Regions from separate parts of the Homo sapiens genome. Here region 2 is linked to region 1. A link means that fine-mapping ties the variant in region 1 to the expression of a gene that starts in the linked region. Tissue or cell type: whole blood. Region 1 holds a variant in brackets; the other region holds the start of a gene. All regions are shown on one strand. Distances are between the middles of the regions. Region 1 overlaps LOC105377509 (a long non-coding RNA gene). Region 2 holds the start of TMEM144 (transmembrane protein 144).

Region 1 (5,398 bases):
CAAAACTAGCCATAGACATTATGTAAATAAATTAGTGTGGTTGTGTTTCAGTAAGACTTTATTTTTGAACCCTGAAACTTGAATTTTATATAATTTCCACATGCCACAAAATATTATTCATCTGATTTTTGTCCTAACCATTTAAAAATGCAAGATCCATTTTTAGCTCATGAGCCATGCAGAAAGAGAAAGTGGGAGGATTTGGCCCATGTACCCTGTTTGCTGACTCCTAAAGTAATTTATATGCCAACTTTTATCATTTATTCTGACAAGGGTATGCTCTTTAAAATCTGCTGTGATTTTAGTTTTAACATTTTCCGAAGTTACATGATTGATTTCATATCATACTCAAAAGCAGGCCTAAATCATATACTACCAAAACCATATCATGTGAAAGTTTTTAAAAGTATCTCACCAGATTTCTCAATATAAAGGGATTTTTCGTATTACCTTTTTGTCCTTTTCCAAAGCATCATTTTTGGAATTAGGTGGGGCCCTGACTTACTGCTTTCTCTGTAGTGTGTAGAATTTTACTTTTAAAGAGCAGTGATAAGACACACAAGTCAGTGAACTGGACATTAAAAGGTCTGTATCATTCTAAAATTTAAAGAAAAGGAAGTTGGTTTGTCCTGGTATCAAAACTAACATAAATTTCCATAGTGGCTGTACTAGTTTGCATTCCCACCAGCAGTGTAGAAGTGTTGCCTTTCCACTGCTTCCATGACAACATCTATTATTTTTTGATTTTTTGATTATGGCCATTCTTGCAGGAGTAAGGTGGTATTGCATTGTGGTTTTAATTTGCATTTCTCGATCATTAGTGATGTCGAGCATTTTTTTCATATGTTTGTTGGCCATTTGTATATCTTCTTTTGAGAATTGTCTGTTCATGTCTTCTGCCCACTTTTCGATGGAATTATTTGTTTTATTCTTGCTAATTTGTTTGAGTTCATTGTAGATTCTGGATATTAGTCCTTTGTCAGATGTATAGATTTTCTTTGTCCTTTGTCAGATGTATAGAAGATTTTCTCCCAGCTGTGGGTTGTCTGTTGTTGACTGTTCTTTTGCCATGCAAAAGCTCTTTAAGTCCCAGCTATTTATCTTTGTTTTTATTGCATTTGCTTTTGGGTTCTTGGTCATAAAATCCTTGCTGAAGCCAATGTTTAGAAGGGTTTTTCTGATGTTATCTTCTAGAATTTTTAGAGTTTCAGGTCTTAGATTTAAGTCCTGTATCCATCTTGAGTTGATTTTTGCAAGAGGTAAGAGATGAGGATACAGTTTCATTCTTCTACATGTGGCTTGCCAATTATCCCAGCACCATCTGTTGAATAGGGTGTCCTTTCCCCATGTATGTTTTTGTTTTCTATGTTGAAGATCAGTTGGCTGTAAGTATTTAGGGTATTTAGGTTTATTTCTGTGTTCTCTATTGTGTTCCATTGGTCTATGTGCCCATTTTTATACCAGTACCATGCTGTTTTGGTGACTGTGGCCTTATAGTATAGTTTGAAATCAGGTAATGTGATGCCTCCACATTTGTTCTTTTTGCTTAGTCTTGCTTTGGCTACGCAGTCTCTTTTTTGGTTTCATATGAATTTTAGGATTTTTTTTTCTAGTTCTGTGAAGAATGATCATGGTATTTTGATGGGAATTGCATTGAATTTGTAGATTGCTTTTGGCAATATGGTCATTTTCACAATATTGATTCTACCCATCCAGAAGCATGGGATATGTTTCTATTTGTTTGTGTCGTCTATGATTTCTTTCAGCAGTGTTTTGTAGTTTTACTTGTAGAGATCTTTCTCCTCCTTGGTTAGGTATATTCCTAAATATTTTATTTTATTTTATTTGCAGCTATTGTAAAAGGAGTTGAGTTCTTGATTTGATTCTCAGCTTGGTCACTGTTGGTGTATAGGAGAGCTACTGATTTGTGTACATTCATTTTGCATACCGAAACTTTGCTGAAATATTTTATCAGTTCTAGGAGCTTTTTGGAGGAGTCTTTAAGGTTTTCTATGCATGGAATCATATCATCACAACCAAAATGGAAAACAGTGTGGAGATTCCTTAAAGCACTAAAAGTAGGACTACCATTTGATTCAGCAATCCCACTACTGAGTACCTATCCAGAGGAAAAGAAGTCATTACACAAAAAAGAAACACGCTCACGCATGTTTGTAGCAGGTTAATTCGCAATTGCAAAAATATGAAACCAACCAAAATGCCCATTAACCAAAGAGGGGATAAAGAAACTGTGATATATATATACATACATACATACATATATATATATATATATATATATATATATACACATACATATATATATATATATACACATACATATATATATACATACATATATATATACATACACACATATATACATATACATATACATATATATACATACACACATATATATACATATACATATATATACACACACATATATACACACACATATATATATATACATATATATATACACACACACATGTATATAGATGAAATGCTACTCAGCCATAAAACGGAATAAATTAATGGCATTTGCAGCAACCTGGATGGGATTCGAGACTATTATTCTAAGCGAAGTAACTCAGGAATGGAAAACAAAACATCATATGTTCTCACTCATAAGTGAGAGATAAACTACGAGGATGCAAAGGCAGAAGAATGACACAATGGACTTTGGGGACTCATAAGGAAAGGGTGGGAATGGAGTGAGGGATAAAAGACTACAAAATGGGTTCAGTGTATACTGCTCAGGAGATGGGTGCAGCAAATCTCACAAATCACCGCTAAAGAACTTACTTATGTAACCAGATAGCACCTGTTCCCCAAAAGCCTATGGAAATAAAAAAAAATAACCTAACATAAATTATAATAAAAGTATTTGGAAATTATTTTTCTGTATGTTATAACTTTTTCTCATAAGAGATGATCCCAATAATTTCTAGTGATGACAATTATTTCTCAACATGTGGTTAAAAGCAAAGAGAAAATAAATCCATCAAGTAAAAATGAAAATTAAGACTTTCGAGTGTTCACTGCTCAAAATAGTTTACCAGTCATGTTGAGAAATTTAATCTTCCAAGTAGAAGTTTCTGTGGGTAGAATACTAACCTAGCTTTTTTTTTT[C/TC]TTTTTCCACTCATACTAGTTAGTGTGGAAGGAGAATCCTCCAAGCAAGATGAATATAATTCATATCAAATCTAATCTTGGAAAGTTACAAACATTGGACCTCTAATAGTTTCTACATATTTTTTAGCTGCAGAAAAAAACCTATTTAGGCATTTGTTAATGCACAAGGTCATAAGTTGTAAACAATTTACTCTACACACTACTTTATATATTTTGATATAACTCTAGAAATTAGAATCTAATCATTCTTAGTGCTAAATGACTCAAACAAATAAAATATTTGTATGAATGGCTGGAAGTAGAAAGTAATATTCTTGTTAATTAAGTGAACCAGTCATCGATCCAGGTTATCCCATGTTATTGACTGCTCTTTAGTCACAGACACATGCTTGCAGAGAAGACAGCCCATGTTTATCAAACATGAATAAAACTACATTGGTTCAGCTTGGTTATTTGTTATGGACTAAACTGTGTTGTCCTTCACCCTCAAAATTTACACGTTGAAGCAGAACTCCCTACGTGACAATATTTGGAGATGGGGACTTTAGAAGATAATTAGACTTAGATGAGGTCGTGAGCATGGTACCCTATGACAGGATTACTGCCATCATAAGAAAAAATGCCAGGGCACTTGCTCTCTTTCTCTCTCTGCCACGTGAAGAAACAGTAAGAAGGCAGCTGACTACAAGCCGGGAAGAAAGCCCTCACCAGAACCCAACCATGCTGGCATGCTGATCTTGGACTTTCTAGTCTACAGAATTGTTAGAAATAAATTTCCATTGTTTAAGCCTCCCAGTCTGTAGTATTTTATTATGGAAACCTGAGCAGACTAATACATCACCTCTTTCAAATTTTACAGTGAGAAGCAATTTTAATCATAAATTTCAACACGATTCAAGAAATGAAATTGCAGGACTCTGGGAGTTTTTATTTGCTCACATTTCCATATCTGTCTGTAGGTTGGTCTAACAGGAATGACTCAGTCAAAACAAGTCCTTCTGCCTAGTTCAGTTCATTCATCTGGATACAGGGTATATGTGATGGAACTAAACACTAATATTTCAAAACTTCTTTCACTGCAATTTTATGTACATATAAATAAAATGATTTGTTTTTGTTTTCAAATGATACTGATACCTGCCTTAATTGTCTACTTTACTTTCAATATGATCTACACAGCAAGAAAGTGAAATAAATAATGTTTATATCACTAAAAATGAAATGTATTTCTATACATTATAGGAAATGATTATGCTTTTTGGAGGGAACTTAGATAAAACTTAAAAGTTACCACTTTTGTCCAAAAAATAAGCTGGCAATTTAGCTAAGTACCTAGTTTTACAAAAATATATAGTTTCTGTTCCTATTAAAATGTTATTTTAAATGCAAGAGATCAGTTAGGTTCATCAGAAACTTATTAGGTATCTACTACTTGTAGTACAGTGGATAAATATAATTATTACCTGTTTTATGCTGCTTGAATTCCCTATATGACTGGATCTTTTTTGGAAATATTGATAGGTTATACATAGGGTTTTCATTGGTGTTTTAGTGTAAGTTTGAAAGAAAACAGAAATGATCAAAACTGGTATTGTTTTTCTGAAAGTGAAAATATTGTGAAGTTATTTTTGTGGATTATTTTAGATAATGTAAACAAAGATAATTAATAGGTTGTTTCAAATATTGTTACTAATATTTAATGGTATGAAAAAATGGTCCTATGTTGTTAAATAAAAAATGGTGAAAAAGAACAGGTAGCTCTCAAAAACATTATTTAAGTTTTCTAGGCAAATATATATTACTATTCTATTAAGTAATCACACCAAGAAATGATATTAAAATGGATAATCTAGGAAATCCTCCAGTCTTGGACAAAAGTTGTGTGAGGGTTACATTTTTCCCATGGAAATTATATTATTCATGGTGTTCGGTTTTTGCAACTCCCCCCAAATCCTATATAATTTATCATTTCTATATTTTTTATACTCCAGACCAGTACTATCCAAAATAACTTTCTGTAATGATGGAAAGGTCTTCATATCTACATTGTCCATTGTGGTAATCACTAGACACATGTGGCCACTGAGCACTTAAAATGTGGCTGCTATGATTGAAGAATTGAATATCTGATTTACTTAATTAGCTAAAATTTAAATATAAAAATTGTAGTAGCATGAAATATTTTTCCATTTAACTAATTTTATTGTTTGAGTGGGACTATATTTGACTTTTACCTTTGCATTATTCTCCTGGAGTGTGC
Region 2 (5,398 bases), 260 kb before region 1:
ATGTAACATGTGCATTCCTTGAAATCACTGCACTATGCAAAATCATGCAGTAAAAACTACAGAGCATAATGGGAAAATGGGGCTAGGAGAACAACACTCAACCTAATTAAAATAGTAGTACAGTTTTAACTGGTTAACTGGTTAATTACATGATGCTGTAATAAATAGGGCATTTTAATTGAAAAACACCAGAAGTTTGCTCCTGGAAGTGAGCATCCAAAGGGTTGCAGCTTACGAGTTACTGTGAAGGTATTGGGTGAGGAGTTGGGACAGGAGATGTGGTTGGGTGGAATACATCATAACCACATGTGATGAACTAAGGGAGCTGGTCGATATTTGAAGATTGTACGTGTGTCTGCGTGCATTATGTGTATTATCACACATCTTTATTCATCTAGGTGCAGTCTTCTGTGCCTATCTAGAGGTTTCTCAGGGACAAAATTGCACATAAGCAAGCCAAAAATCTGTTATGCTTACATTGTTCTCTAATATATCAATCATGTTGAAGATTCATGTTTTCAAAACAGGTGTTATAGTAGAACTGACTATAAATTTCTTCCATTCATATAATGGCCCAAGAGATTTCCTGACTGTACCCTCCCTAACTTTACCATGAAACAACCTTAATGGTTCTCCTATTCTGACTTTCAGACAAACTGGTATGAGCACTGTCAAATGACTAATTTTAAGCTCTATTCACTAGGTATCAAGATCAACATGATTTATTTTTGTAGCTATACTTTTAAAAGACCAAAAAAGGAACTTCATTTTTAAAAATAATATAACGTTAACAATCAAGGAAAAATAATTACCATCACCAGTATCAAATTTTTTAAGTGGCACAAAATTTGAGCCAAACAAAAGGATAGCTACAAAACAGGAGATGTAACCAAAGGTTAGGTCTGCTCCATTGTTGCTCATGATTCCAGTCTTAATGAGTTAGCTGGTTCACTTTAGACTTGATGTACTTTTCAGGAGCTTCTGAAATAAAAGAAAAAATGAAACAATTGAGACGTGAATCTGTGACCAAATTGTGATTAACATATTATATTTATTGAATTTTTCAAAAGCACGCTAAGACTCCTTTTTGCAGATAGGATATTACACAACTATATATAATGTTTGTACTTCATGTTAATTTATTCTATCACCAAATATTTTTGATCACTAGCCTACAATTTAAAAAGAACAAGCCCTGAAGACAAATTTTTAGTACATTACAAAAAAAATTCTCCTGTGTAGGTTCCATCACTGCAGAAAGTTTTAGCGGATAACGCTGCTAAGCTTATTTAACAGCTTTAGCTTCTCTATGAAGAAAGGACTAAAACCACAAATAACCAAGAATTAGACATTTTTTCATAAAGTTACCATTTGGAAAAGGCCACTGAATACAATTCAGATTTTTAGTTTCCCGAGATACATGAGAAAAAAGCACCACCAAAGTAATTTTATCACAGGAGGTACAGCGTCTTTCCACAATGCCATCTTGGATTCATATTTTGCACACTGGCCCTTTGGAATAAGCCCTCTGGAATAGAAGCAGAATAATCCAGTGGTTTCTTTTTTCCTGCAAATTTAATGTTATAGTAATAACTTCTTGTATATATGTATTGAATAAAGTACACCTGAAATCACCTTTCCTTGTTATTTTATTTCACAATGACAAATATTTAAAGGTCCATGTATTGTTCCTTATGTGTTCTTGCAGAGAATATTAAATATACAACAACCTACAAAATATGTTATTTACCATTATTAAAGATAGTTTAACTGAAAACAAGGATCACTTCAAAACTGGTCAATAAACTTTAGTAAAGAAAATGTGTATTTGAAATTGTGTGGACTTTCTTAAAACAAAAACACATTGCTATTAAGAAAACATCCTCTATAGGGATGTGGTTGAGGAAGACACACTGAGGCACATTTCAACATTGACACATTAACACTATTCAATAAAAATAATTATTATTCTACTGTTAGGCTCAAAGAGAGGTTCAGCCCTGCAGTGACTTACATGGGTTATGGCTCAAGGGTCAGCTGAGGCAGGTGCTTGCTGCTAAGATAACAGAGGTGCCAAGATAACAGAGGTGCAACAGGTCAGAGATGCAGGAAGTGTCTTGAAAAGCTAACCTATGACTAAAAAGACACATGACTGGGTGATAGCTAACACATCATTTTCTCCCCATTTTAATTCACAACAAGCAAAGCAAAACAAAACCTTTATGTGTACATTGATAGAAGAGAATGTCTAACCTTCAAGAGTGGCAAATTATTTTATTGAGAAGGCTCCACAAAGGCCCTACACCTCTGAAACGGAGAGACTAATTTGACGTGCTAATTAGAGTGCATGAGGTGCATTTCGACTACTGAATAAACATCAATCAGTTATTACCTATAGATAAATGAAGTTTATTGCATGCAGCTCTTGTACATTTCAGAGCATGTGATCTTATTTCATTGTGAATTGGCAATAACTTACTGTCTTTAAAAAGGCTCTACCGCTCTCTAAAATAATGAAATTTTTGTGGAAAAGAAAAGCAGTATCACTCCATCCAGCACATTTTTCCCAATTCTTCCTGCACAAAACCTAAAAAGTCTCAAACATTATTTTAATGTTTTCTTTTCAGCGTTCGCTGATATTTTGTCAAACTATATTAATTCATTTTTATTTTATTACTTTTGTTTCATTTATTAGTAAATACTTCTCCTTTACATTTTTCCTAGTAATTTAAACTTCTACGCAGACTTTGAAAAAATTCGTATTTGGTATGTTCTGATCAATACTGCTTGCTCCACTCCAACTAAAATTTCATTTTTAGTTTCATGTTGATTTTCCCAAATCTCCAGGCAAGTACCGCCTGTCTTTGGGCTAAAATTAACAGTGCTTGAATGTATTTATTCCGAGCCTTGATTTTTCTTTTTAACCATGAGCACGTTTCTGAAAAATCATGAGACGCTCCCCTGCAAAGCGACTTGGCTTTCCTTTGAGTGGCTGTACTCACTGCGTTCCGGGCTGGCGGCTGAAGCTCCTTCCTACTCAGCGCCGGCGCGATCCGCCCACTACGTGCCAGTGTGGAGCCGGAGCCTGACTCATTCCCTCTACGTGCTGGGGGCGGCCTGGCCAGCCTTTACTTTCTGCGGGGACAATTTCCCATACACCGGCCGGGAGGAGAGGGGAGGGCTCTAGCACCCGTGACCCAGACTCCCGTTCCCAGGGTGCTCGCGAAGAGCGCCAATCCAGCCTTGACTTCCTGCTGGGACGTTTACCTCCACTTAAGGAGGGTGGAGAAAGGAGGGCTTTAGCACCGGTGACCTAGAGGCCTTCATAGGACAGCAGGTTGGGGAACGCCTTCCTTCAGTTGCTGTGCTGGACTGAATTGTCAGGTGGCTCAAAAGGAGTCGTCAAGCCCTGGGTCGGTCAACCAGGAAACTAGAAGAGTTTTGTGTATTTCAAGAGGTGATTATTCAGGAAACTCTCAGCATGTCACCCTCTCTAAGTGTCACAGAGGGAGGTATTATTTGTGCAGTTTATGGATAAAACAAAAGTCTGAGGAATTTCACACCATTGTAAAAGATTATCTCAAGTGAATTTTTCCACTTGGTATTAAGAAATTCATCTGCACCACTGACGTCATTAACATTTCTTGTGACATTACAAGATTTCACTTGTAATCACTAATTCTTTGTAGATGCACCTAAGCCATTTATCTGTACAGGCCATTTATCTGTATTTTTTTTTTTTAAGACGGAGTCTCGCTCTCGTCCAAGCTGGAGTGCAGTGGTGCAATCTCGGCTCCCTGCAACCTCCGCCTCCTGGGTTCAAGCGATTCTCCTGCCTCAGCCTCCTGAGTAGCTGGGACTACAGGCACCCACCACCACACCTGGCTAATTTTTTTGTATTTTTAGTAGAGACGGGGTTTCACCGTGTTAGCCAGGATGGTCTCGATCTCCTGACCTCAGGTGATCCGCCCGCCTCGCCCTCCCAAAGTGAGGGAGTCCTCTCAAAAAAAAAACAAAACAAAAAAAACATCTCTTCATGTGGGTTCGCATACACCAAAGGATGCAAACTTTAAGTTGGAAAGGGGAAGTGTAGGTTCTGTGCTAGTCTGAGTTCAAAGAAGCCTTCTCTGAGGAAGTGCTATTTAACCCGAGACCATCCAGTGGTTGGTAATGGGTGTAGCATTCACAGGAAGGAGAAAACACAAGGACTGTTAAAATATGACATTTCCTAGAAGGAAGTTCTGCCTTAAACATTAATCACATCCATAGACTATCATGTCAGATGAGCAGATGGGAAGGCAAAATAACATTTCATTTAAAGAATTAAAGCAGCAAAGCTTTTTCACTTAAGGAAGAGGATTAATTTAGCAGTTCAGAAAGATTTTGAAGAAATCAGTTCCCCTTTCCACACATGCACACCTAAGACACACACACATACACAAACTTGCTTCCAAAAATATAGGGCCTAAATCCAACCTAGAATTGTTTCACTTCATGGTCACAAGATCATGTGGTTTATTCTTGCTTCACTCACATGGAGAAACTGAAGCTTGTGTCAGCATTTGCTGAGAATTTCTAAAGTCTAAAAGTGAGTTGGGGGCTGAATTAGGCCTGAGAAGATTCATTAGGGATATGCTAGGCCATTGCCTTTTACATTATGCCACAGAGCAAATCCAAACATGCATGACTCTATTCTTAAACTAAAATTTTTCTTTCAAATTGTTTCGTATACATGAATGCCTAAACAGAATGGTCTGTATTGGGAGAGTCCTGGCAGACACTAGAAGATCCAGGTTCTGACTTTAGCTTCGTCTGTTAGCAATATTTCTCATGGAAACTCATTTAATCTCTTTAAACCTTAGTTTTCTTATATGTAAAATGATAATAATAAGACCTGTGCACCTCCCCCTTTTATGTGGTCAAAAGAGATATATATATATATATATATATATATATATATATATATATATATATATATATAACATTATTACTAGGACTTCTGGTTTCTGCTCTGACATTTGAAAGGTGTGAAAGTCTCCACTTCCATCATCACAACAAGAAAAAAATGAGCAAATCAAAAATCAACTACTCTTTTTAGATCTGCAGAGAATTGATGTCATAGGACATGCCACCTCTTTGCAAACTGAAGAAATAGGTGAATACGGAGAATTACAGCTTATCAGGACAGCAAAAGCCACTGGAGCCAGTAAAGGATAGGGGGGCATTTATACAGTATTTGGCCTATTGCTGAAGGCTGAGTGTGGACTAACTTGAGAGTTGAAAACTCAGAGACAGTGGGAGTCATTCATATGGGAGCATCCACACATTAATGAGTTTTACTTTCAGAAGACAGGACAAAAGTTTCCTCTTTTTTCTGGCATGTGGGAGGAAAACAATA

The links. PIP is the estimated chance that this variant, and not a neighbour inherited with it, causes the effect.
Region 2: it holds the start of TMEM144, and the variant in region 1 is the best candidate, but not a certain one, in a credible set for the expression of TMEM144 in whole blood (INTERVAL, PIP 0.83).

Annotation. Positions count from the first base shown.
Region 1 is chr4:157,952,888-157,958,285 of GRCh38, reverse strand. All of the region lies in intron 2 of LOC105377509 (a long non-coding RNA gene), which reads left to right. Among named protein-coding and RNA genes, the nearest start is that of GASK1B-AS1, 220 kb to the left of the region's middle. The variant C/TC (reference allele first, on the strand shown) is at 3,139.
Region 2 is chr4:158,208,191-158,213,588 of GRCh38, reverse strand. It overlaps TMEM144 (transmembrane protein 144), which reads right to left and starts at 3,103. Exons shown (of 13, transcript NM_018342.5): 1 at 3,003-3,103; 2 at 2,015-2,136; 3 at 813-981. The coding sequence starts at 921. RefSeq lists enhancers at 3,171-3,260, 3,161-3,715.